Linked DNA regions of Homo sapiens. The protein of the gene in region 3 interacts with the protein of the main gene of each other region in a biochemical or structural test. Each region holds a gene or a part of one and is shown on either strand. Other genes may lie near its edges.

What was found.
Region 1: the proteins of BNIP3L (region 3) and FBXL4 form a complex in vitro, tested with the Homo sapiens proteins (one study listed by BioGRID).
Region 2: the proteins of BNIP3L (region 3) and NGFR form a complex in vitro, tested with the Homo sapiens proteins (one study listed by BioGRID).

The regions. Positions count from the first base shown.
Region 1 is NC_000006.12:98,944,185-98,953,093, reverse strand, and holds the start of FBXL4 (F-box/LRR-repeat protein 4), read left to right. Parts: upstream 1-5,147; 5' UTR 5,148-5,288; intron 5,289-5,491; exon of another isoform or gene 5,492-8,909. UniProt on the Homo sapiens protein: Substrate-recognition component of the mitochondria-localized SCF-FBXL4 ubiquitin E3 ligase complex that plays a role in the restriction of mitophagy by controlling the degradation of BNIP3 and NIX mitophagy receptors.
Region 2 is NC_000017.11:49,498,293-49,505,292, reverse strand, and holds part of NGFR (tumor necrosis factor receptor superfamily member 16 precursor), read right to left. Parts: intron 3,231-7,000; coding exon 3,089-3,230; intron 1-3,088. UniProt on the Homo sapiens protein: Low affinity receptor which can bind to NGF, BDNF, NTF3, and NTF4. Forms a heterodimeric receptor with SORCS2 that binds the precursor forms of NGF, BDNF and NTF3 with high affinity, and has much lower affinity for mature NGF and BDNF.
Region 3 is NC_000008.11:26,385,365-26,393,876, reverse strand, and holds part of BNIP3L (BCL2/adenovirus E1B 19 kDa protein-interacting protein 3-like), read right to left. Parts: intron 3,465-8,512; exon of another isoform or gene 3,360-3,464; intron 2,635-3,359; coding exon 2,451-2,634; intron 1-2,450.

The DNA.
Region 1 (8,909 bases), on a different chromosome or scaffold from region 3:
TAAAGTGCCATTACAAACAAAGCTAAGCAAAAAAACTAAATAAATAATAGCACCAACTTCCACATCTCTTAAACATTAAAGAGATGAAAATGTATGGAGGGAAATGCAACAGATAGGCACCCAAAAGATAAGAACAAGAATGTTAATAGCAGCATTGCTTACAATAATCAAAACTAAAAACAGCTCAATGTCTATCAAGAGTAGAATAGATAAATAAATTATGGTATATTTATGTAATAGAAACTCAAGAAACTATCACTACACTTGACAACATGAATAACCCTCACAAAGCTAATGTTGTGAGAAAGAAGCCAGACTCAAAAGAGTGTGTAATGTATGATCCCATCTACCTAAAGGACAAAACTTAGGAAAATTAATCTCTGGTGTTAGAATTCAGGTTACCTTTGGGCAGGAGTAAGGAGAAGAGATTTAGGAGAGAATCTGGGAGGTTTCTGAGTACTGGTGATTATCTACTTTTTTGTCTGAATGGTGAATACAAGGGTATGTACACTCATCTTTTGCATTCTTTTCTGAATATACTTTATACTTAAATAAAAACTTATTTAGAAGTTATCTAGGATTAAGAAACCACTGTTAGACTGAATTTGAGCATTGAGTTGATGCTTATCAAATCAATGAAGTCTCACCAGCAACCATAAACAGATCAGTCTTATTTACTTATTATATTATTTTTTAATCCAGTTTTAATTTTACAATAGATTTAGATTTACAGAAAAGTTGCAGTGAATAGACTGACATTTACAGAAGAATTGCAATGACAATACAGAGAGTTCCATACATCACTCATCTAGTTTCCCCTTATTGTTAAGAGCTCATGTTACAATAGTATGTTTATTACAACTAAGAAATCAGCACTGGTGTGTTATTATTAAATAAATTCTACTCTTCATTCTAATTTCACTAGTTTTTCTACTAACGTCCTTTTTCTGTTCCAGGATTTCATTCAAAATATCATATTAGATTTTTTGAAAAGATAAGTAAAATCGACAAACCATTAGCCAGACTAAGAAAAAATGAGAAATGACCCAAATAAACAAAATCAGAGATAAAAAAGGAGACATTACAACTGATACCAGAGGAATATAAAGATCATAAGAAACTATTAGGAACAATGATATGCCAACAAATTTGGTAACCCAGAAGAAATGGATAAATTTCTGGACACATACAACCTACCAATACTGAATCATGAAGCTATAGAAAATGTGAACAAATCAGTAACAAGTGGCAGATTGAATTAGTATAAAAGGTCTCCTATTAAAGAAAAGCCCAGGACATGATGGCTTTACTTCTACCAAACATTTAAATAACAAATTGCAATTCTTCTCAAACTCTTCCAAAAAACTGAAGAGGGGGAAATACTGCCAAGGTCATTCTATGGGGCAGGCATTACCCTGATAGCAAAATCAGGCAAGGACACAACAAAAAAACAAAGCTTATAGGCCAGTATCCCTGATGAATATAAATGCAAAAATCTTCAACAAAAGAGATCACTAACGATGGTCAAGAAGGATTCATAGCAGACATGCAAGAATGATTCAACATAAAGCAAATTAATAAATGTGATACATCACTTTAACAGAATGAAGGACAAAAACCACATTGATCATTTCAATAGATACAGAAAAACATTTGACACAATTCGTTATTTTTCTCTGATAAAAGCTCAATGAATTAGGTATAAAAGGAATGTACTTCAGTACAATAAAGGCCATATATGACAAGTCCCCAACAGCTAATACACTGAATAGACAAAAGTTGAATGCTTTTCCTCTAAGAACCAGAACAAGACAAGGATGCCCGCTTTCTCACTTCTATTCAACATAGTACTGGCAATCCTAGCTAGAGCAGTTAGGTAAGAAAAAAATAAGGCATCTAAATTGTATAGAAGTTAAACGGTCCTTGTTTGCAGATGATATGACCTTATATATATAGAAAAACCTAAAGACTTTACTAAAAAAAACTGTTATAATAAATTTAGTAAGTTTGCAGGATGTAAAATCAACATACAAAAATCAGTAGCATTTCTATACACAGAAAGCACACTATTTGAAAAAGACATCAAGAAAACAATTCCACTTACAATGACTACAAAAACAACCCATAAAATAAAATACTTAGGAATAAATTTAACCAAGGAGGTGAAAGATCTGTACACTCAAACTATAAAACCTTGATGAAAGAAATTAGAGAAGATGCAAAAAATGGAAAGATATTCTGTGTTTATGGATTGGAGGAATAGTTAAAATGTCCATACCTACCCAAAGCAATCTACATATTCAATGCAGTCTCTAACAATATATCAATGATGTTCTTCCCAGAAATAGAAAAAAAAATCCTAAAATTTGTATGGAACCACAGAAAATCCTGGATAGAGAAAACAATGTTGAGCAAAAAGAATAAAGCTGAAGTCATCACAATACGTCACTTCAAAATATATTACAAAGCTATAGCAATCGAAACAGCATGGTAGTGGCATAAAAACAGACACATTAACTAATGGAACAGAATATAGAGGCCAGAAATAAAGCCACACATCTATGGTCAATTGCTTTTTTTACAAAAGGTGCCAAGAACACACAATGGAGAAAGGACAGTCTGTTCAACAGTGTTGGCAAAAACTAATGTCCACACGCAGAAAAATGAAATTAGAACCTTATCTCTCACCATATAGAAAAGTCAAGTCAAAATGGATTAAAGGCTTAAATTTAAGACCCAAAACTATGAAACTTCTAGAAGAAAGCATAGGGAAAAGTCTCCATGACATAAGTCTGGGCAAGATCTTATCTTTTTGGTTAAGATCTGAAACACATAGGCAACAAAAGTGAAAATAGACAAATGGGATAACATCAAGCTTAAAAGCTTCTGCATAGCAAAGGAAACAATCAAGTGAAGAGACAACCCACAGAATGGGAGAAAATATTTGCAAACTATTTATTTAACAAGGGATTAATAACCAGAATATTTTATATAAGGAGCTCAAACAACTCAATAGGAAAGCAAAAACAAAAACAAAAACAAAAACAAATAATCCAATTAAAAAATGGGCAGAAGATCTGAACAGGCATTTCTCAAAAGAAGACATACAAATGGCCAACTGGTATATGAAAAAATGCTCCTTATCACTAATCATCAGATAAATGCAAATCAAAACAATGAGATATCTCACCCCAGTGAGAATGGCTTTTATCAAAAAAAAAAAAAAAAAAAAAAAGCCAGGAACAAAAGATACTGGTGAGAATGTGGAGAAAGGGGAACCCGTGTGCACTGTTGGCAGGAATGAATATTACTAGAGCCACTGTGAAAAACTGTTTGAAGATTCTTCAAAAAACTAAAAATAGAACTACTATATGATTCAGCAATTCTACTATTGGGTATAGATCCAACAGAAAGGAAATACATATATCAAAGAGATATCTGCACTTCTATGTTTATTGCAGCACTATTTACAATAGCCAAGATTTAGAATTGACCTAAGTGTCCGCGCAACAGATGAATGGATAAAGAAAATGGGGTACATATACACAATAGAATATTATTCAGCCATAAAACCCTCCACAAAATCCTTTTATTTGCAACAAACATGGATAGAACTGGAGGTCATTATGATGAGTGAAATAAGCCAAGCACAGAAAGGCAAATAATGCATGTTCTCACTCATATGTGGGAGTTCAGAAAGTGGATCTCAGAGACTGAGAAGTATTGGGGGGGTGGGCCATGGGGGAGCAAGGGGAGGTAAACATACACTTAGAAGAAACATACACTTAGAAGAAATAAGACCCGGTGTTCCATAGATCAGTAGGGTGACTACAGCTAACATTTATCAATAGTACATGTCAAAATAGCCAGAAGAGAACAATTTGAATGTTCCTAGCACAAAGAAAAGATAAATATTTAAGGGGATGAGTAACCCAGTTATGCTGATTTGATTACAGAAATGAATCAAATTATCACATATACCCTGAAAATATGTACAGCTATTATGCATCAAAAAGTTGAAGAAAATAAAAATTTTAATTTTTTTGTATACAATGTATATTGCATATCATATATTGATTCTGTTCATATATAAGTAAATATCCTTACTGGTTTGCCTCATTGGAGCATTCAGACAGCAAATAATGTGTAGTTCAACATTTTATTAAATATTTTCCATCTTAGTGGATATTTTGTAACAAGATAAATATGATGCAAACTAAAAAAAGTGCCAAGGGCGGGCGCGGTGGCTCACGGCTGTAATCCCAGCACTTTAGGAGGCTGAGGCAGGTGGATCACAAGGTCAGGAGATCAAGACCATCCTAGCCAATATGGTGAAACCCCGTCTCTACTAAAAATACAAAATATTAGCTTGGCGCCCTTGTAGTCCCAGCTACTCGGGAGGCTGAGGCAGGAGAATCGCTTGAACCTGGGAGGTGGAGGTTGCAGTGAGCCGAGATCGCGCCACTGCACTCCAGCCTGGCGACAGAGCGAGACTCCGTCTCAAAAAATACATAAATAAATAAATAAAGTGCCATACTGAATCTACCAAAAATAAATCAAAATGAGTAAGAGAGGCTGCCAGACCATCTTCTTCATCAGAGGTAATGGTCAGAGGCTTCTGAACGTTGGTATGGAAATGAGCCTGCAGGCAGGATTTGTATGCAGGGAAGAGGAGGTTTGTAAACTAGGTGAATTATACCTTCAGAGTGCATATAATGTATATTATACTTTTCCTCTACGTATGCGTACCAGCCGTATTACCTATGTATCATCTGATCCACCAAGTCTGGACTGAAGAAGTCCTTGTAGGACCACACTACACATGGCGAGCCGGTACTCGGAAGGGATTATTCCGAAGAGGATTTGTAGACACTACCCGCTGTGTATGACCTAGGCCCTTTACACGGGCACCACTGGAGCTAGGAAGCCAGCAGAAAGCTCCTCCCCCTGGCCTGGGAGCGGGCTGTCCGTAGGACCCAGAGCACCTCCCATGGGAGAAACGCCCGGCTTTGCTTCTGGCCCCGCCCCGCCTCCCTCCAGGCCCCGCCCCGCCTCCCCGGCCCCGCCCCAACCCCGCGGCCCCGCCCCTCCTCCCCGGCTCCGCCCCGCCTCCCCGGGCCCGCCGCTCCTCGCGGCCTCCGCGTCTTCCTTCCGGGTCGCGCTAGGCCGGGCTTGCGGCGGTTGTGCCGCATCTAGAGAGTCGGGGAGCCGCCCCCGCACCCAGGCCTTCTCGCGCTGCCTGGTCGCTGGTGAAGCCCGCGGCGCGCGCCTCTCCCGGACCCTGCAGGGTACGGCCCTTCCTTTACTTCTCCCTCCCGTGGGTCTCTGTCTTCTTCCTTTGGCGCCGGGGCGGGGCCGGGGCCGAGCCAGCGCGCAGCTCCGCGCTTTGGGGAGTCTGGACGCCTGGCAGAGGCCCCCGCTGCCCGCCCCTCCCCGCCCGCGGCCCCGCGCCCCCGCGCCTCCGCTTCACGCTTGCGGGGCTTGCTGGGGCCCTTGAGAACTGCTGACGTGCCTCGGGCTCTTTCTACGCTACAGTCTGCCTGCAGGCTGTGAGGCGTCGTTCGGACGTGTGCGCGGCTCAGGGTTGTTTACACCGCGGGGGACTGCGGGTCGCCCCACACCCGCGCTCAGTGCTGCGCCGGCAGCCACGCGTCGGCCACATGCCCGCCTGTGCTTGTGATTCCTGTGCCTGCTGCCTTGATTTCCCTCTGACATCCGATGGTTTTTGCCTAACCAGGCCTGTTTTCTTTCTTCAGGACTGCTACAGGGTGCCCAGCTACAACCTTGTTTCTGTGTTTAGGTTTAGGGGTGCCCCTAGAGTGTGATGATGACCATCTACTTGGCCTCCTTGTCGACATATTTATAACGGGTGGTTTTGGATTTCCTTGATTTCCCAGTAATCATTGCCACAAACCTTCGAGATGCATTCACAGATTGAAATACAGTATACAAATAACTATTATAGAAGGTGAAGATGGTATAAGCCTGTGGTCAGGTAGTTGCGTTGGCAGGATGCCCGTCTGGCTTTGTGCTCCGGAGGGCACATTACCACCAGGTGCAGGGATCTCTGCTTGCTTTGGTCTGTTCACAGACACAAGCTGCCTTTTCTGGTTCTTGCGTGCACTCCTTGGTTTCTTAAGTTCAGCTATAGGTATATATTTTTTTCTTTCAGGCTCACTTCCTGCCTCCATTATCCTGTACCGCATATTGTATCTGTTGGTTGAGTAGAGAGAGATTCATCCAGAGTCATCAGCGCTCCAATAGTCCTTTATCAGATTAAGGACTTGAGGGAAATGTGCATTATGCTTTAGTAGGCACTCTAAAAGTTCCTTGAATTGGATTCTTCTTTCCATACTTATGTTCTGAGTACTAACTTTGTTTTAAACTTCTGCGCCAAAAGTTGGCTTTTCTGAACTCTGCATTTTCAAACTCTTCCCTTCTGTTATTTGAAAATCAGATAAGTCAACTCATTGTAAGATGGATAATTTCTTTACTCACGCCGTGATGAAATAATGCGATTATAGTACTCTGTACAATGGTACATATGGTACTTGCACATATGGTCAGTTAACAAAAACTGCCCCTTCTTTCTTTACTGTGTTAGTCTCATCCTCTTAATGTTGCTGCGGTTAACATTCTCGATCTTAACTTCGCGGATCTAACACAGTGTCCTTTAAAAAAGGCCTTTATCTACATGAATTGTATATAAATATCCACCTCCGTTTTCTTCTAGTATTGTTAATGATCTTATTTATATTTAATGTGAGATAAGAAGGCTCTAACTTTATAATTTTGTTAGTGACTCCATCATCATTTGTTGGAATTCTATTTTTCCCTGCTGATCAGTCCTATAAATACCATAGGCCCTAAATTCCCGTGTATTCTTGGGACTTTCTGAACGGTCTAGTATTCTTTGGCTCCCTGTGGTGATCCTGGCTTCTGTGATGCTCTTATTGCTCTAGGTTTATAATGTGTTTTAATATCTAGGGATTTGAACGATGCCTGGCATATTGTAGACATCACTAAATATTTTTGAAATGAACACATTTAGTGGGGGCAAGTTGATTCCCTTTCTTTACCTCTTGCCTCCCTCCCCCCTTTAAAATTTTCCTGCCAGTTATTGAGATTCATTTATTTTAGCTTGCTTTTTCCATGGTCAGTTGAATCATTAACTGTTAGTAAATAAATCCCTTCTGTTGCTCATTCAGAACTTGCGACTAGAGTTGCTCCTTACAGTTACATAGAGAAGCAGCCTGATTAAAAATCTGCATGCCTTTTGACTTTGCACCGTGTCATAGTAACTGTAGTGTGTCTCTCCCCATCACCTGTGATTTAGGATGTTCTGTACCTGGTTTCTAAGAGAAAAATGGTTATCTAAGAGATAAATGGCTGTAGAAGTGTTCCCTGGGATATGAGGAAGATATCCTCATATCCATTTGTATTTTACCATCACAACTGGATATCTAAAATATAATAAATTTTACACTGGACACTTAAAACTTTATTAGCCCATGAAATAAATGTATGCATTCTTTAAAAAAGATCAAGCAATACAGAAATCCTTAAAGGAGGAAGTGAAAGTGCTGTGTGCCCACCTACCCAGTAACCTTGTTCCATAAAGATGATCACTGCTTGCAGATTTTAAAAATAAATATATTTAAGTCTACTTTTGTTTCATAAATGGCAGTGTACCATCTATAATTTTCTATAGCTTCCACTTAATAATAATTGATAAACATCCTTCTGTGTCAGTGCATATAATAGTATCTTGTCTTTTTTGTAAGTCTTTTGGTATTTCATTGTAGGAATAACCCAAAAGTTATTTAGCCAGTCCCCTGTTGGCATTATTCCAAATTTATTACAAACAGAACTGCAAGGATCATTTTTGTGTTTATTCTGTATACTGTCATGTTTGCATGTTAGTTCATTTCCTAAGATATGGAATTGCTAGGTCAGAGGCTACACATAAGTGTTAAATTATGAGAGATTCTGCCAAAGTGCTCCTCAAAAGTTGTTGGTAAGAGTAAATTTATACAATTTGTTAAAATATTGCTTTTGCCATATCACATTGCCAAGAATTGTCAAGGATCTGAGATCATACCCTACTTGCAAGCTAACAGTTTCATGGAAACTGGCAGAAAATATGAGACTCCTGACTCAGAGACAAAGCACAACAGGAACGGTAGCCAGAGGATCATCTTATGCTGATTTGCTGGAACCCTGATTTCCACAGGGTGATGTGATAAGAGCCCAGTGACACTAGCAGATGAAGTAGGTTATGTTACAGGAGAGGAGTCCTTAGTTTAGGGAACCTGAATCTTTCATAGTGGGCTGCAAATAAAGCTGTCTGATCTTTGCCAGAGAGGGAGACATTATCTTTATTTTCCCACATGGTAAACAAACCTGCCCTCTGTACCAGAGGGAGACATCTCTTTATCTGCCAAGGCTATTTGCTATATAAACACCACTGAAAAGATAAAAAATAAAGGCCGTCAGTGCCTCTACTTATATGATATGCAGAAACTTGAGAGGCCTGCTAAGATGAAATGATTATTTTTTATATTTAGTAATTTTATGGATGAAAAATGCTATTTTATTGTTTTAGTATTGCATTTCTTTGCTTATTGATGAGGTTGACTATCTGTATGTTTGTTGGTCATTTGTATTCGTTTTTACTTGCATGATCATATCCCTTGCTTAGGTTTCTGTTGAAATGTTCCTCTTTTCTAATTGATTTGTAATAGCTCTTTACATATTGTGGCTATTAATGATTTGGTTCACCATTTGCTAGTATTTTCTCATAGTCTATTCTTTAGTGTTTCTTGGGGCTTTTGCTTTATAAAAATCTTTAATATTTATGTTGCCAGTTCTGCTGTTGTTTTCCTTTACGGCCTCTGGGTTTCCACCGG
Region 2 (7,000 bases), on a different chromosome or scaffold from region 3:
AACCAGGGAAGGACAGATTGTTCAGAATGTGGAAGCAGAAGCAGAAAGGCTAAAGCGCCATTAGGGGGAAACTGAGGCCTGTAGGGGGGTCTCAACATTATTCAAAGGCATCAGAGACAAGATGGAGCAAGGGGTCACTGGCTTCGGGGGTGTGGTGGGGGGATGAGGAGGCAAAGAAGGAAAAGCCAGAGAGAAGTGAAAGGGGCAGAACTGGGGACAAAGGCTGGGCGTGGTGGCTCACTCCTGTAATCCCAGCACTTTGGGAGGCCAAGGCGAGCAGATCACTTGAGGCCAGGAGTTCAAGACCAGCCTGGCCAACATGGCAAAACCCCATCTCTATAAAAAATACAAAAATTAGCTGGGTGTAGTGGTGCACGTCTGTAATCCCAGCTACTCGGGAAGCTGAGGTGGGAGGATTGCTTGAGCATGGGAGGCAGAGGTTACAGTGAGCCAAGACTGCACCAGTGCACTCCAGCCTGGGTGACAGAGTGAGACGCTGTCAAAAAAAAAAAAAAAAAAAAAAGAAAGAAAGAAAGAAAAAGGGTAGAGGAGAGAAGAAAAGACCCAGGAAGAAGGGCCTGGAGGGAGACTTCAGTTTCAAGTGAATTCTGACAGAGGAACCCTGTGTCCCTTTTCCTAGGAGCAGGCAGATCTGGATTCAAAATCCATTTCCATCGCTTATAAGCTGTGTGACTTTGGGTGTTTTACTTAACCTCTCTGAGCTTTTTCTTTCTCTGTAAAAATAAGGAGCAATATCTGCAGTCACAGGGTTGTAGTGAGGAATAAATGAAATTCAGCCATAAAGCTTTGGCACGTAGTTGGGATCCTATAAAGATTGGGCCCCATGGGGGTGGAGAGCGATGAGGACATTGAACTTTGGAGGTAGGAATATGGTCAGACAGCAGAAAGAACGTCCAAACACAAACAGCAAAGGCAGGATGTCTGAGCTATACAAACAAGAGGGTCCTGGCTGGCTGGCGTGTGATGGAGGGTAAGTCTAGTCACACAGGAGGGGAAGAGGAGAAGCCTGCTCATGGCAAAACACAGAAAATTAGCAGAAAACTCCTGGGAGAGGGTTTTAGGTGGTGTGAAAAATGTGGTCTTTTTTGGCAGAGAATGAAGGCAGGGGCTTAATAGGTTTCCTTGTGGAAACGTTTTAAGGGTAGAGGGAAAGTCCGCTGGGGTCTCCGTCCCATAAAGTGGGCTTGTAAAGGCAGCCTGTTAATGCAGCTGGAGGTGGAGGAGGGGGAGACAGGGAAGGAGGGGAAAATGGAGGGGAGGGAGGAAGTGGAAGGGAGGATTCTCAAAGCCACCTCTCTGCCTGCCTCCCTTCCCTTCCAGAGATTCTGGAACTTCCCTCTCCTGGTGTCCTCCGCCCCACCTCCTGCTGAAGGTCCTTTGACTGAAGGGAAAGGGTTCCCATCATTTAGGTCCTGGGAGGAGAGTCCTGGGCTGGAGTCTAGGAAGCAAGAGAGGCAGATTTGGAGGTTCTGGGATAGCTGATGGTTGGCCACCCCCGCCCTGGAATGGAAACCCTGTTAGGCCAGGGCCAGAGCAGGTGGCCATGAAGCAAGACGGCAAAGGCATTGGAGGATGTCCCACCTCCACACATACGCCCAGGCATTTCTTGGCTGGGGAATGGTGTTACAGGATCCACAAGCACAGAGATGGGAAAACAGTGTGTCTGGGGAACACCAAGAGTTGGGGTTGCCTGGAGGACAGATAGACTCAGGGGGGACATCCAGAGGTAACACTAGGTCCGCAGGTGGGTTCAGAGGCCCCAGCTCTATCCCCTTATTCCCAGCCGGATTAAAGAATAATCTGAGTATGGTTCCCTCGAGCCCTCCAGGTGGGCATCGAGTGCCAGGTAGAAGGCAGGGAGTCAGGAAAAGGGCAGGGAGCCCACGGCCCAAAGGCAGCAACTGAGGACTGGGGGCACCGATCAGGGACCGAGACTCCTGACTCAAAAGCATGAGGGAATTCAGACCCTGGACAAGACTGGGGCCAAGGGGCCCAGACCCACCAGCCCAGGAAGATGAGATTCTCTCCCCTCCTGAAAGAAATCCCAGGCAGGGTCGAGCACGGTGGCTCACGCCTCTAATCCCAACACTTTGGGAGGCTAAGGCAGGTGGATCACTTGAGGCCAGAAGTTTGAGACCAGCCTGGTCCACATGGTAAAACCCCATCTCTACTACAAATACAAGAATTAGCCAGGCATGGTGGCATGCATGCACCCGTAGTCCCAGCTACTCAGGAGGCTGAGGCATGAGAATCACTTGAAACCAGGAGGTGGAGGTTGCAGTGAGTTGAGATCATGCCATTGCACTCCCAACCTGGGCAACAGAGCAAAACTCTGTTGAAGGAAGGAAGGAAGGAAGGAAAGGAAAGAAAGGAAAGAAAGGTAAAGAAAGAGAGAGAGAGAAAGGAAGGAAGGAAGGAAGGAAGGAAGGAAGGAAGGAAGGAAGGAAGGAAGGAAGAAATCCCAGGCAGGAATGGGCACAGCTCCCCGTCTCCCCTCCCCTCTGTCACCCCACAGTAAGGACGTCTTCATGGCGCTCTGACCCCCATCCCTGCTGCCTCGGGAAAACTCTGCTTCCTGGTCAAAGCTGGAGAAGAGTTGGCCTGTAGGGAGGAACAGCCACACCCCCAGGATCCCCCAAGGTCAGCCTTCAGGGCAGCCAGGATTTGATCCTCCTCTCCCTTCCCCCAAACACACCGGGGATAAGTGGCAGCCATTGATTTTGCAGTGCAGATGATATTTTTAGCTGGTCTTAGCATCAGCTACTCCTCCCTGCCCAGCCACACTCTTCTACCAAGCCTCTGCCTTCTCCAGAGCTGGGAATGGGCACCCCTTGGAGATCCCCCATGGGGTTCCCCTCCTCCCTCTGCACACTTCCCTTCTCCATTCTCAGCTTCTCGAATCTGGGAGAAGCGCCTCCTACACTGGGTCAGACCCACTTCTGATGACCTTACAGTGGTGGTCTTATAAGGCCTCTACTGGGCATGCTTCTCCCCAGCGCCCCTCCCTTTCACCCCTCTCCTCCCTCCCATTCTTCTCCCCTCCTCCTGCCCGCCACCCTCTACTCACTGTCCAGGCAGGGCTCACACACGGTCTGGTTGGCTCCACAAGGCTGGGCCACACCCTCGCCCAGGTTGCAGGCTTTGCAGCACTCACCGCTGTGTGTGTACAGGCCTGTGGGGCATGCCTCCTTGGCACCTCCAAGGGACACCTGGATGGAGGGAGATCGGAGGGTCAGACTGGCAAGAGAAAGCTGGGGTGGGTTGGGGGGGGTTCTTCCGGGGAATCAAACACCCTCCTCCCACTGCCTTCTATTAGAACCACCTGGGCTGGGATGAGCTCACCAGGGAGGCGTTAGGAACATCAAAGCTGACAGGGGAAAGGCAAGTGAGGGACAGTGTGCCCGTGCAGGCTGCTGGGGGTGTGAGGTCAGAGCTTCAGCTGCTGACCTTCTGCAAAGTTCATCCTGGGGTTACAGCAACTCCTGGAATCCCAAGGATATACCACATGGGGAAGGTGGCCAGAGGCCCAGCGGAGGGCCTACCAACAGGGATGTCATGAATGGTTGGACAGGTTGTAGCTTGCACAGGGCTCCCAGCCAACGGGGCAAGTAGAGCTGAAACCTATCCCAAACTCCATTTGCTAAGCTTTGCACCTGCTGGGTTGTATCTACCCAGAGGAGGGCCTTTTTCTAACAAAGGCCAGCAGGGCCTTACTCCAGGTCCTTAATTCCACATATTAAATAATAAATGGAAGATGTCCATGCCCAAGAGCAGAAAGGAGAGGGCCAGGGTCTTGGGTTTGAATCCTGACTCTACACTGGGGGTCTTGCTTGCCCATCTTCCCTCTGAGTCTTCATTTCTCTACAGAGATGGCAACAGCCTGGTGCCAGGGCAAAAGGCCAGCCATTTGGCAAAAGCCTCGCACCAAGATGGAGAGAAAGGGAGAACTGTTATCAATGATGGGACAGTGGCTGCTCTCACCACCCAGCAGCCCTGCCCTGCCACGGTTTGATTTCCAGCCACCAGTCCTCCCCCTCCCCCATGTGGCCACTGGGAACAGGGCTGGAACCAAGGGAAAGGGGAGTCAGGTTCCTGCCACTGAAGCATCTTTGCTCGTGGATGTAACAATTTAACACCAGATTCCCCAGGGGAAGGGGCTGGTGGAGGCTTGCTTTATATTTCTGTTCCTTTAAAAAAAACTTAATGTCTAATAAAACTCCAAAGCCTGCTTTGCTAGCTCCAGACCATGCAGCCCTCATTTGATGCTGAGAAGTATGGGCTTTGGGGTCGTGGGACCAGAGGGAAGCTTTACAAGCTTGTTTTGGGCATTCTGCTTCTTCTACATTGGCCAGATCATGGCCAAGACACTCCTTTCCCTCCAGCCTTTTAAAATATCCTGCGGCCTCATCAGGGTTTGGTGGGGAAGGAAACAGAGGAGTCAGGGGGATAGACAGGTTGGATCAACCCAGGAGGGAGTCTGTGGTCCTCATGAGACCAGCAGGACAGGCACAGGCAACAGAGGAGGTGGAACCTTGGTGTTGCCGCACCTCCTCCAGGGCAGCAACACACTCAGTGCTGGGAACATCTGCAGACCAGGAGCCTCAGGGTCCCAGATGCAGGCTTTCCCTCAAGAGGCAAGATTCCAGAAGGGCCTGTTCTGATTTCTTTTCATCCTTTAGGGCTCTGCTTAAATGTCACTTCCTCAAGGAAGTGGTCCTGTTGCACCCACCGCTCACAGATTAGGTGGGGCTGCCATGTTACGCATCCAGCCTGTTCTCCGGTTCTCTCTGCTTTTGTCTGGCCTGAACTTTATAGACTCCCTCATTGGACTGTCAGCTCCCTGAGGGAGCTGGATTGCCCCAGGGCCTGATGCGGTATCTGGCATGCAGTAGGGACACAATGCATACACGCGTGGAGTTGAAATACATGAAAATACTGTATGACCTCAATTAACCAGAACTCTGGGAGAGCGACTGTTGGTTAGCCGAGATTCCAGACTGCCAGGCTTTGCTGCCCTCATCATTTTTGCTTTTCACCATGGTGGCTGCACCCTTCCCTGTCTCTGGAGCAAAGCTTCATGGCTTCCCATGACTCAGGGACTCTGTATTTACACCAGCGATTACTCTGGGCTGCAATACAGGGAAACTCTTTTGTTCTTTTCCCAAATTACCACACTTTTGTCTTTTTGAGTTCTCCTGTCAGCCTTTTTTTTTTTTTTAATATAGCTTTTCTGTTTCCTCCCTTCCTGTCAAGGTATCAGTTGTCACTTCTTGCTGCTACCAGAGTGTGACCTGAAGCAACCCTTCCCCCACCACGCTAATCTATTTAAGGTCTAATTGAATCTTCAGAAACTGTGGAACTCGCCTTGGTAGAAAGGCATGTGCCGGCCGGGCGTGGTGGCTTACGCCTGTAATCCCAGCACTTTGGGAGGCCGAGGCAGGCAGATCACGAGGTCAGGAGATCGAGACCATCCTGCCTAACATGGTGAAACCCCATCTCTACTAAAAATACAAAATATTAGCCAGGCGTGGTGGCGGGCGCCTGTAGTCTCAGCTACTCAGGAGGCTGAGGCAGGAGAATCGCTTGAACCCAGGAGGCAGAGGTTGCAGTGAGTCGAGATCGTGCCACTGCACTCCAGCCTGGGTGGCAGAGTGACAGTCCGTCTCAAAATAAATAAATAAATAAATAAAATAAAAATAATAAAAAATATAAAGGTATGTAAATAGGATCTGAACCAGGAGGAGGCAAGCCTCTGAATACAATCTGTGAGCTCTCACGCCACTCTGAATCCTGGCTCCACACTTGTCCTGGGTCATAATTAGGTAATGATGACAGTACCTGCATCATAGGATTGCTGTAAGTATTACACAAGTAAATAAGGTATTTATGTACTTTGGGACCCCTCTTTTCTGTCCTCCAGGGTCTACTTTGTGGCCATTGGCTGTGTTCCAGTTTGTTGGGCTCTGGACAGCTGAGGAGATCTGTCTACAGTGGTCTTGGGTGGTGTGGGGGCTTTGTGCAAATGCCCCTGCCAAGAAACCTGTTCTCCCTGCTGCAGCCTGAGGTCCTCTCTCTTCTCTTAAAAACTGCATTTGGAGTAGGGGCCAGATAATTAGTAACCATGCATTTCCTGTCCTTGTTTTATGTTCCCTATGTTGTAAAATCCTAGATCTGCTTCTTAATAGTATGTTGCTTAGGGTAAATTACTTAATTTCCCTAAACCTCAGTTTTTCTCACCTAAAACATTGGGTTGATAATGTCTATTGCCCAGGATTGCTGGGAGAATTAAGTGAAATAATTTATGCAAATATGTCTGGTCTACAGTAGGAATTTAATAAATGTTAGTTATCAAAGAAGCATCTCATCTTAAGGAGACCCCAGGCAGGAGGGGAGAGTTTAGCCAAGTAGGGAGGGGTGACTAACATTCAGGCTAATTGCTCCAAAATCAGATCCAAAAGGATTAATTTATAGGGATGACAGATAAATTTCCCTGAAATTTGTATGTGTTACACTTAGTCATTTCACATTTGACAGAATGATTTCATCTCATTTTTAAGAACGCTTGTAATCTTTTTGTTTTGGCCATTTCAAGGCTTACAAGGAACTAAGGTGGAAGGATCCTTAGATGAATTGACTTTTAAGAATTTTCATTTTTTTTAATTAGAGAAAAGAGAGAAACAGCGAAACAGTTGAAAGTATTTGAAACCATACGAATGTTTCAGTATAATCAGCCCTGGCCATTCCAACAGCTTCAGCAAAGAGCTCTTAAGTGAATGGGGCCGTGGTCACCGCCATGGGATGGGAGAGATTTTCAAACACCTGGAGGGCCTTTTGAGGTCGATGCAAACCCAGGGGAGGCACTGGCACATACCCCTCACTCCCTTTGGATAGGGGAGGAGTTGGGAGGAAAGGAGCTAATTACCCAAGATAATGTAGCATAGAGACTTGAGAGGGGGCAGGGCCTCTGCGTGTGGAGAAG
Region 3 (8,512 bases):
TAAATGGGGACAGGAAAACAGAAAAGCTGGTTCTGTATCAAACCAACGTCATATATATTTAGGAAATTTTTGTCTTGAACTAGCACAGGAGTCAACCCGAACTGGGCACTCCTACTGGCCTCAGTTTACTATCTTTGTGCTCATAACTGTTGGGTTCACAGCTACACATCAAGTTAAGGGTCAGCCTTACATAGCCGTGACCAGGTCAAGGCAGTCAGGGTGACAAAGTCAAGAATCCTATGGAAGCATTGCTCTGCTTCTATATGCTTCTTCACACTGGTACCAACCTCTTCTCTAAACTGTTTACTCCTCCTAACAATTTGGAATGCATTAGAGCTTCACCCATGGCACATATTAGAATCGGCTGGGGAGCTTTTAAAATATTGTGACGTCTCTACCCTGCCCCTGTCAACCAAAATGAGAAGTTCTTGAGATGCAGTCCATGTGCTGCCATTTTTAAAAGCTTCTGGGTGAATCTAGTGTGCCGTCAAGGTGAAAACCCCTGTGACAGGGTGAAAGGCAAAGCAGAACACACTGGGGTTCCCAGCTAACAACCCCTGCGGCAACACAAATATTTCTATGGAATAATTTTTAAGTTGAAAATATACATAAATCAGCTCTAGGACTGATACCCAACAACCCTAAAACATTTCCCCCTACAAGAAACACTTTCCAATTACTTTTCACATATAGAGACGCATGGCAATTCAGATGATGTGAGTTTTGAAGACACTCCTCAATGGTAAAGCGTGTTAGTAGGCTATCCCAGAAGACTCGAGTTCTAGCCATTCTCTGAAAGATGACCACTAATCTAGGGCCTGGAGAGACATAAGATGAGGGGTACGAAAGTGTTCAAAAGCATTTGCCATGCCTCCTCATGGCAACCTAAACTTAAACATGATCATAGGAGGGTGAAGGCATATTCAGTCACACGTAAAACTGCACCATAAATGAAGTAAGATGAACAGACAGGTAAGCAGGTGACTGTTCTCTGCTCATTGACAGCACCATGTGAACAACAGGCTCATGGACACCATGGTATCAATGATCAAGGCCCACACACCTGAACGCAGAGTGAAAGCCTTGTTGACAGGCCATAACAAGCAGAAAACTTGAGAAACCCATCAGCAAGTTCCATAATATAAATATAAATCTTCATTCGGAAAGACAGACTAATGCTGTAGCTACTGGAATCAAGGGCAAGCTGTTCAGAAGAGAGCCATCTGCTCTGGTTCCGCTTATGACAAGAGCCATCCCAGGCTCTAAGAAGCACAGGGACAAGTCAGGGATGACACGGGGGTGGCGGGGGTGCACAGTGTGCCACAGAGCCAACAAACCAGTCCCCCGCTGCCTTGGCAACATTAGTGGATCATAAGCCACTCAGGAAGTTGGACATGATTTAACTCATTTCTCCTTTTTTTCACTTCTTCTGATAAGTAATAATATGTGCAATATACACAATTTTTACAAAATACAAAAATGTTAAGAAGAAACATATCCATACTGCATTCCTAAAAATAGTCACTGTTTACATTTCCTTAATCTGCTTCCCGTGCATTTGCATTTTCTAAATGGTTAACATCAGTTAACAACCACCCAGAAGGTCATCCAGTGCCCCATAATGCTAACAGTGTAGCTGTCACTGAAACAAGAATTTCTTAAATGTCATTTAATATCTAGCCCTTCTGAAAAAAAAAAAAAAAAACAGAAAAGTTTATACTAAAAAATAATGACCTGGTTTCATTCCACACACATATCTCGTTGTATTCTTACTCTTTCACCATAAGCAGTCCTTAATCCATGTAATTAGTTTCTTCAGCTCAAATATAGAAAAATGAGGTCTGAAACAAAACATCCCCTGAGAAAGCAGAGGAGACTTCAAAACTATCTTTACAGACCTTGGTTGGTGCTTCCAACTGTGCAAATATTGCTATAACGTGAAGCAACCTGCAGTTCCTATGAATCAAACATTTACTGAGTGTCTACTACGTGCCAGCACCATTACTGTGAAGGTAATAAAAATTAAACATGGCCCCTGCCCTTTGCAACGTCAACATCTAGAAGGGAAGACACATATATACAGAGGTAACTAATTCAAGAACAGTCTGTGATCTGTAACACAGGGACACAAAGGAAAATGGGGGAAAGTCAGATTAATTCTATAAATTAGCATTTATGCCACTGAATTTTAAACTGATAAACTGCTAGAAACAATATAATCTGGGTAAGAAAAATGACAATCTGGGGAAAAACAGTGGGCACTGAAGCACCTGTCAATTAGCTGTCTCATATAAACACAATATATATCTGTGCAATATATATTATACTACAATATATCAGGAGGCATATTTTGCTAAGTGAAGATTTAAGCAAACAGATTTTTCCTAGAGTGAATGAGCCCTGTAACCCACCTGTTTCCTGAATTCCACCAAAACATGGGTCTCACTTACCTGTCACAGTGAGAACTGCCTCTGGAACTACTCTGTCCTGATTCATGTTGTGCATCCAAAAGAATCTTCTCCATGTCTCCATTGTGGATGGAGGATGAGGATGGTACGTGTTCCAGCCCCCCATTTTTCCCATTGCCATTATCATTGCCATTGCTGCTGTTCATGGGTAGCTCCACCCAGGAACCTGTTGGACAAGTCAGATAAGTTAACCACAGCAGAACTGAAATCTGTCATGTGCACACAGATGTGAACATGGTGAATCCAGATAAGAATTCTGACTCTCCTCAAACCAAATGTAAAAGTATTCTGAAGAAAATAAATAAGAAGTAATAAAAGTCTAAAGATCTATATAGTTCTGTTCCTGAAATAGCTCATGCCATCAACTGAGAAACAGCTCAAACTCTAAAACATCTCAGAAAACGTGTTTTTCAGTCAATTTCTCTCTGGGTAAAGCTTGGTTTATAATAACACTCTACTGAAAACTCAGGTTGCTTTTCAAAAAAAAATTGCTACTTTTAGGCTATTTACCTTTAACATTTTAGTTGGTGTATATATACACACACACTTTCTTCATAGTCTACCTAAGCTGCTCAGCTGTATCTGCTCCAGAAATGAAATAAATATATCACCTACAAATTTCATAAAAGGTCATCTAAGTAAGTTAGCAACTATATCCTACTTAGTGCAAACAACTGAGAAACTCCTAGAGAGGGAACCTAAATCCAATAGCAAAAATTTCAATTTGTGCACAAATCAGGAGCATAAAATTAATGCAGCTGGTTAACTAAATCAGGTAATAATGCTAAAAATTCAGAAAAAAGCTTTATCTCTATCTCACTGATTAGTTTCTTCATTTCCTTTGTATCTCAGGCTTTCTAGTCCTTCTCCTTTTTTATACACTAAACATACCTTGTGAACTTGTCTTTTTTCTTTTCTCTCCCACGGGTTTCTACTTTCTAGGGTTTTCATTAAACCCTGTTGATTTGGGAGCAGAAACAACTGCACATCAGCTACAGGCAAACACGAAAAGTTTTCTTGGACAAAAAGTTGAAGGGGTGGAGCCACAGAAAAAGGGGATGTGCCACTGGTAATTCTGCATACATCTTGAAAATATTTATTGGTCTGATGAGTTTGCTAAACGTATTAAGGTGCTTTAATTTTAACAAGAGTTGAGGCCAGGTACAGTGGCTCACACATGTAATCCCAGCACTTTGGGAGGCTGAGGCACCAGGATTGCTTGAATCCAGGAGTTTGACACCAGCCTGGGGAACATGGCAAGACCCTGTCTCTACAAAAGAATAGTAAGTAAGTAAGTAAATAAATTGTTAACAGTAGCCAATAAACTTAACTTCACAGCAAAAAGAGATAGTGGTATATTTTGTTCATAATTTCCATTTCTTACAATAAATTTTGTTTTAGAAAATGTACCCAAGCAGCTTGGTGTGGCCATCCCTCTAAACTCCCAGCAGAAGTGTTAGAGAGTTCCAGGGATGAACAAGGAGTTCCATCAGTAAGTTGAAGTAAAATCATCAAAACTGGCTCAAACTCTAAAATGCACTCTAAATGTGGCGATGGCTACACCAGTTCCAGAGTGAACTGAACATCACCCTCACAAGAAGGAAAGCTCCAAGGCAGACCTAGCTGGGAATCTGACCCCATCACTTCCTGTCTACCTGTGTGACCTGAGCTTCAGCTTCCTCATTTGTAAACAGAGATAATAATAACACCGGGGTGCTGTGACGATTTAGTAGTATCAAGTGCTGGTAAATAGAAGATGCTCAGTTATACACTAGAATTTTCTTTTATAAATACTTAGAACCCTTTCCTTTCCATTTGAGGCAGCCCCAGTGGCTACCACCATCCCATAGTCACCACCAATTCCTTAGGACTCTGCTGCCAAACGACACAGTTGTACAACATCTCCATGGCCTCATTCTATACACACATAAAATGGACACAGGCTAGAGAACTCAAAATGGATTAACAAATACAACTAGCAAAGCTAAGAGAGATCTAACATTGAAGATAATTTATCTCGAGTGCCTCTGGAGTGTATAAGAAATACGCCAAAAGCATCCCTAAATTTAGAGCTCTGCAACATATTTCAACTGGAGAGAAAGGGGGTGGGGGAGAGAATATGTATATAAAAACAGTTTTTTTTTCTGACTCTCACTGTTTCTAGGATTTTCAAACTTATTTTTAAACCAATGGGACCAGTTCTTCTTGTATAGAAGCCTAATGTGTACAATAGTAACAAACCAAAACCCAGAGCTGCTCTGACAGAAGCAGAGGTAAGGAACCAGGAGTTCCAGATAGGTCTCTGTGGAAGTCAGTCTTCCCTAAAATACAATTAATATTCACTTGAAGTAGGCAATCGAAGAGAAAAAAGGGTGTAACAAACAATATCAGGTTTTCTGGTCCTTACTTTTGTTTTTCTTTTGAGACAGTCTTGCATTGTCACCCAGGCTGTAGTACAGTGGCACAATCACAGCTCACTGCGGCCTTGATTCCTGGGCCCAAGCAATCCTCCCACCTCAGCCTCCCAAGAAGCTGGGACTACAGGGCACATGCCACCATGCCCGACTTATTTATTTATTTATTTATTTATTTATTTATTTAGTAGAGACAGGGTCTCCCTACATTGCCCAGGTTGGTCTCAAACTCCTGGGCTTCAGCAATCCTCCCACCTCAGCCTCCCAAAGTGCTGGGCTTACAGGTATGAGCCACTGCTCCCAACCTGGTTTTTACTTTTTTGAAGGACTTTCAAATCAATGTCTGGATCCTATTTTCTTCATTAAAAACACATAAGCAATCATAATCCAATATATACTTTTGGAACCTGAAAGAGACATACCTAGAAAAGCTTAGTAAAAGTGATCTCTGCTGTGGCCTCCACACCCTGAATCATAACTGAAAGCATTTCTACTTAAGGCGGACAATTTGTACTTGGGATACACTGGTATAGTGTGGTCAGGGGCTGAGACTGAAGCCAGGCTCCCACTCTCAGTTATAGCTGTTACCCTCGCACAGGGTACTTAACCTCTTTGTGCCTCAGTTTTCTCATCTATAAAATAGAGATAATAACTGTATCTACCTCGAAGACTTTGTTAGGAGGATTAAATGAATATAGCACGCAGAACAATAAGAAAGGTCCCTAAGAAAGTTTTAGCTACTACAATTATATTCTATATCATAGAAAAACCATTCCTTACTGGAAAAATGTGTTCCTAGAAAACGTAAACATCAGTACATAAAATTAAAAATTAACATCTCTCCCAACCTCCCGTTCCTACTCCCAAAGGAGCCACTTTTGACAGTTTCACATGGAGACTTGCAGAGTTTTTGTCAATGAAATATAGGTCTGTTTTTGCTTTTGTTTTTATAAAGAAATGGAACTGTACCATACACACATACTGACATATTCTGTAAGTCGTTTTTCAGATGTCTTCCCTATCAATATATACTGACATTCATTCTTTTGAACAACTGCATTGCATCTCATCTTTTATAAAGATATACCATACTTTAACCATTATCTAAATGGCAATGGTTAACTACTACTGAGATGGTTGTTTCTAATACTTTGTTATTACAATTAGGGCTTCAGTGAACATTCTGGAGAATAATTTGACAATAGGTATTAACAGCCTTAAAAGTGTAGATTTCCTTTAATTAATTAAGGGTAATTCTCTTTCAAAAATATCATCTATGGAAATACATAGTGGTACAGAGAAAGTTATGTACACAGGCATTAAGAGGCTACATATTAATCTTTTGAGTAACACATAAAAAAGCAAATGTGTCTTCCTCAATAGATGAACAACACGTCTGTTTCCCATCACCCGATTTGTTCCTGATTTACAGCCTCAGAATTTCTTAGTGTTCTAACTCTACCAATCCTCACAAAGTCCCTTTTTACTTGGAAAGGAAACAAGGCTAGATAAGAGGTTTGTGCTGTCCAAGCAACACAAAGTAGAAAACAACCACAGAGTGAATTCTCCTCCTAATGATCAAGCTTGAAAACTAAAAGCTGGAAGCTTTCTCCATTATCTAAAAGACTTTACAAACTAAGAGCTGTTCCTTATGCCAATTTGTACATAACATACAATGACATGAGATATTTTCTGGTTTGGGTTTTTGGGAATGACTAAGAGATTCAGAGAAACTTCTGTGAATGCTTCTCCGTTCTCTAACATAATAGACTGTGAAGGGTGGTCCAATAATTGTGATTATACTCATTGCCGTATGTTGTATAATCTTTACAGTTTTATAATCACTAGTTCAATCCTCTTGCAAGAAGAAGAAGAGAGGAGCTTTGGGACAAGGGGAGGAGAGAATGAAGAGTATTTCTCCTCATCTTTCCCCCTAACTTTTCAAGGCCCACATGTAACTCTTTTGAAATTTCATTATATTTACATTCTTTCCTCAAAGCTTTTCATTCATTATTGAAAGGAATCCAGACCAGGCCAACCTGATGCTGAAATCCAGACCAGGCCAACAAGAGTTACTGGCATTCTTCTTAAATAAAAAAATAAATAAATAAATTTTTGAAAAGTTGGTCTTTTTGCAGCAGTATGTATTTACATACAAGTTACGTAGGTATTCAAAACATTATTATGAGGCAGTGACAATCCATGAAGGCCTTAAGAGCACTCTTCATAACAAGAAAGCAAGGACATTGTGCTTGAAGATGTTTCTATTTAAAAAAAAGAGTTTGTGACCAGCTTGGGCAACAAAGCAAAACTCCATCTCTACAAAAAATAAGTTAGCCGGTGACCAGCCTGGGTGACAAAGTGAAACTCGAACTCTACAAGAAATAAAATAATTAGCTGGATGTGGGGGTGCACACCTGCAGTCCTAGCTACTTGGGAGGCTGAGGCAGGAGGATCACTTGAGCCCAGGAGGTCTAAGCTGCCATGAGCTATGACTGTACCACTGCACTCCAGTTTGGGTGACAAAGCAAGACCCTGTCTCAACAAAACAAAAAACAAAAAAGAACAAGAAAATTTGAAAAGAAAAAAAAGGCTATACTTCTCAACAACAAGAATTATACTACGATTTACACTACTACTTTGATTTTCCTTATTCGGCCCTATTGAATCTTATTCAAACATTCTTAAGGAAGTTGATAGTTTTCTTAACAATAAAACAAACTGGACAACATCCTTTTGACTTGGAAGGAGTTTGGGTATTTGCCCTGTAATTTTTAATGAAAGTGAACAGTCTCTCCACAGCGGTAAAGTTAAAAAAAAATCACAAAAATACTTCACTATTCAAATACTTCAGTAATTTGCTATTGAAACCCTGCTTTGACCCCTGAACCAAAGATAAAATCCCAAACGCAAGATAATCTGTACATTTCTTCTCCTGTTTTTCAGTTGTGCAACTTTACCCAACAAAGTCCTTCGACTTATCAGCAATTTGGATAGTACTAGATGCCTGAATAAGTTGTTTTGCCCATTGCCCAAAAATCACTTCAAGGAATTCAATGAGGCTTCTTGTTTTGTTCAGTACAGTGTTGTGTAATGAGCTAAAAAAACGAACAGAGTGAGAGGCAAGAAGGGAGTAATTAAATATGGCAATATCTAAAAGCTTTTCAGAAAGCTCACCCTATCCCACACAAAATACTTTCTATCTAGCAGATGTCCCAAAGCAACATTTTGATGTCCCATGCAGGCTGAGTGTACTTCCACCTCTGTAAGAGCTGATGTCAGCCAAGCAGGAACCGACTGGCCAAAGACATCAAACTCCTCATAGGTCTGTCAGACACCAAGATAAACAATGACATATGGCTCAGCCCCCGCCCTCGCCCCTTTTTTTTTTTGAGACAGAGTCTTGCTCTGTCACCCAGGCTGGAGTGCAGTGGCGTGATCTCGGCTCACTGCAACCTCTGCCTCCCGGATTCAAGCGATTCTCCTGCCTCAGCCGCCTGAATAGCTGGGATTACAGGCGCCCAACACCAAGCCAGGCTAATTTTTGTATTTTCAGTAGAGAGGGGGTTGTTCTCTCACCATGTTGGCCAGGCTGGTCTCGAACTCCTGACCTCAAGTGATCCACTCGCT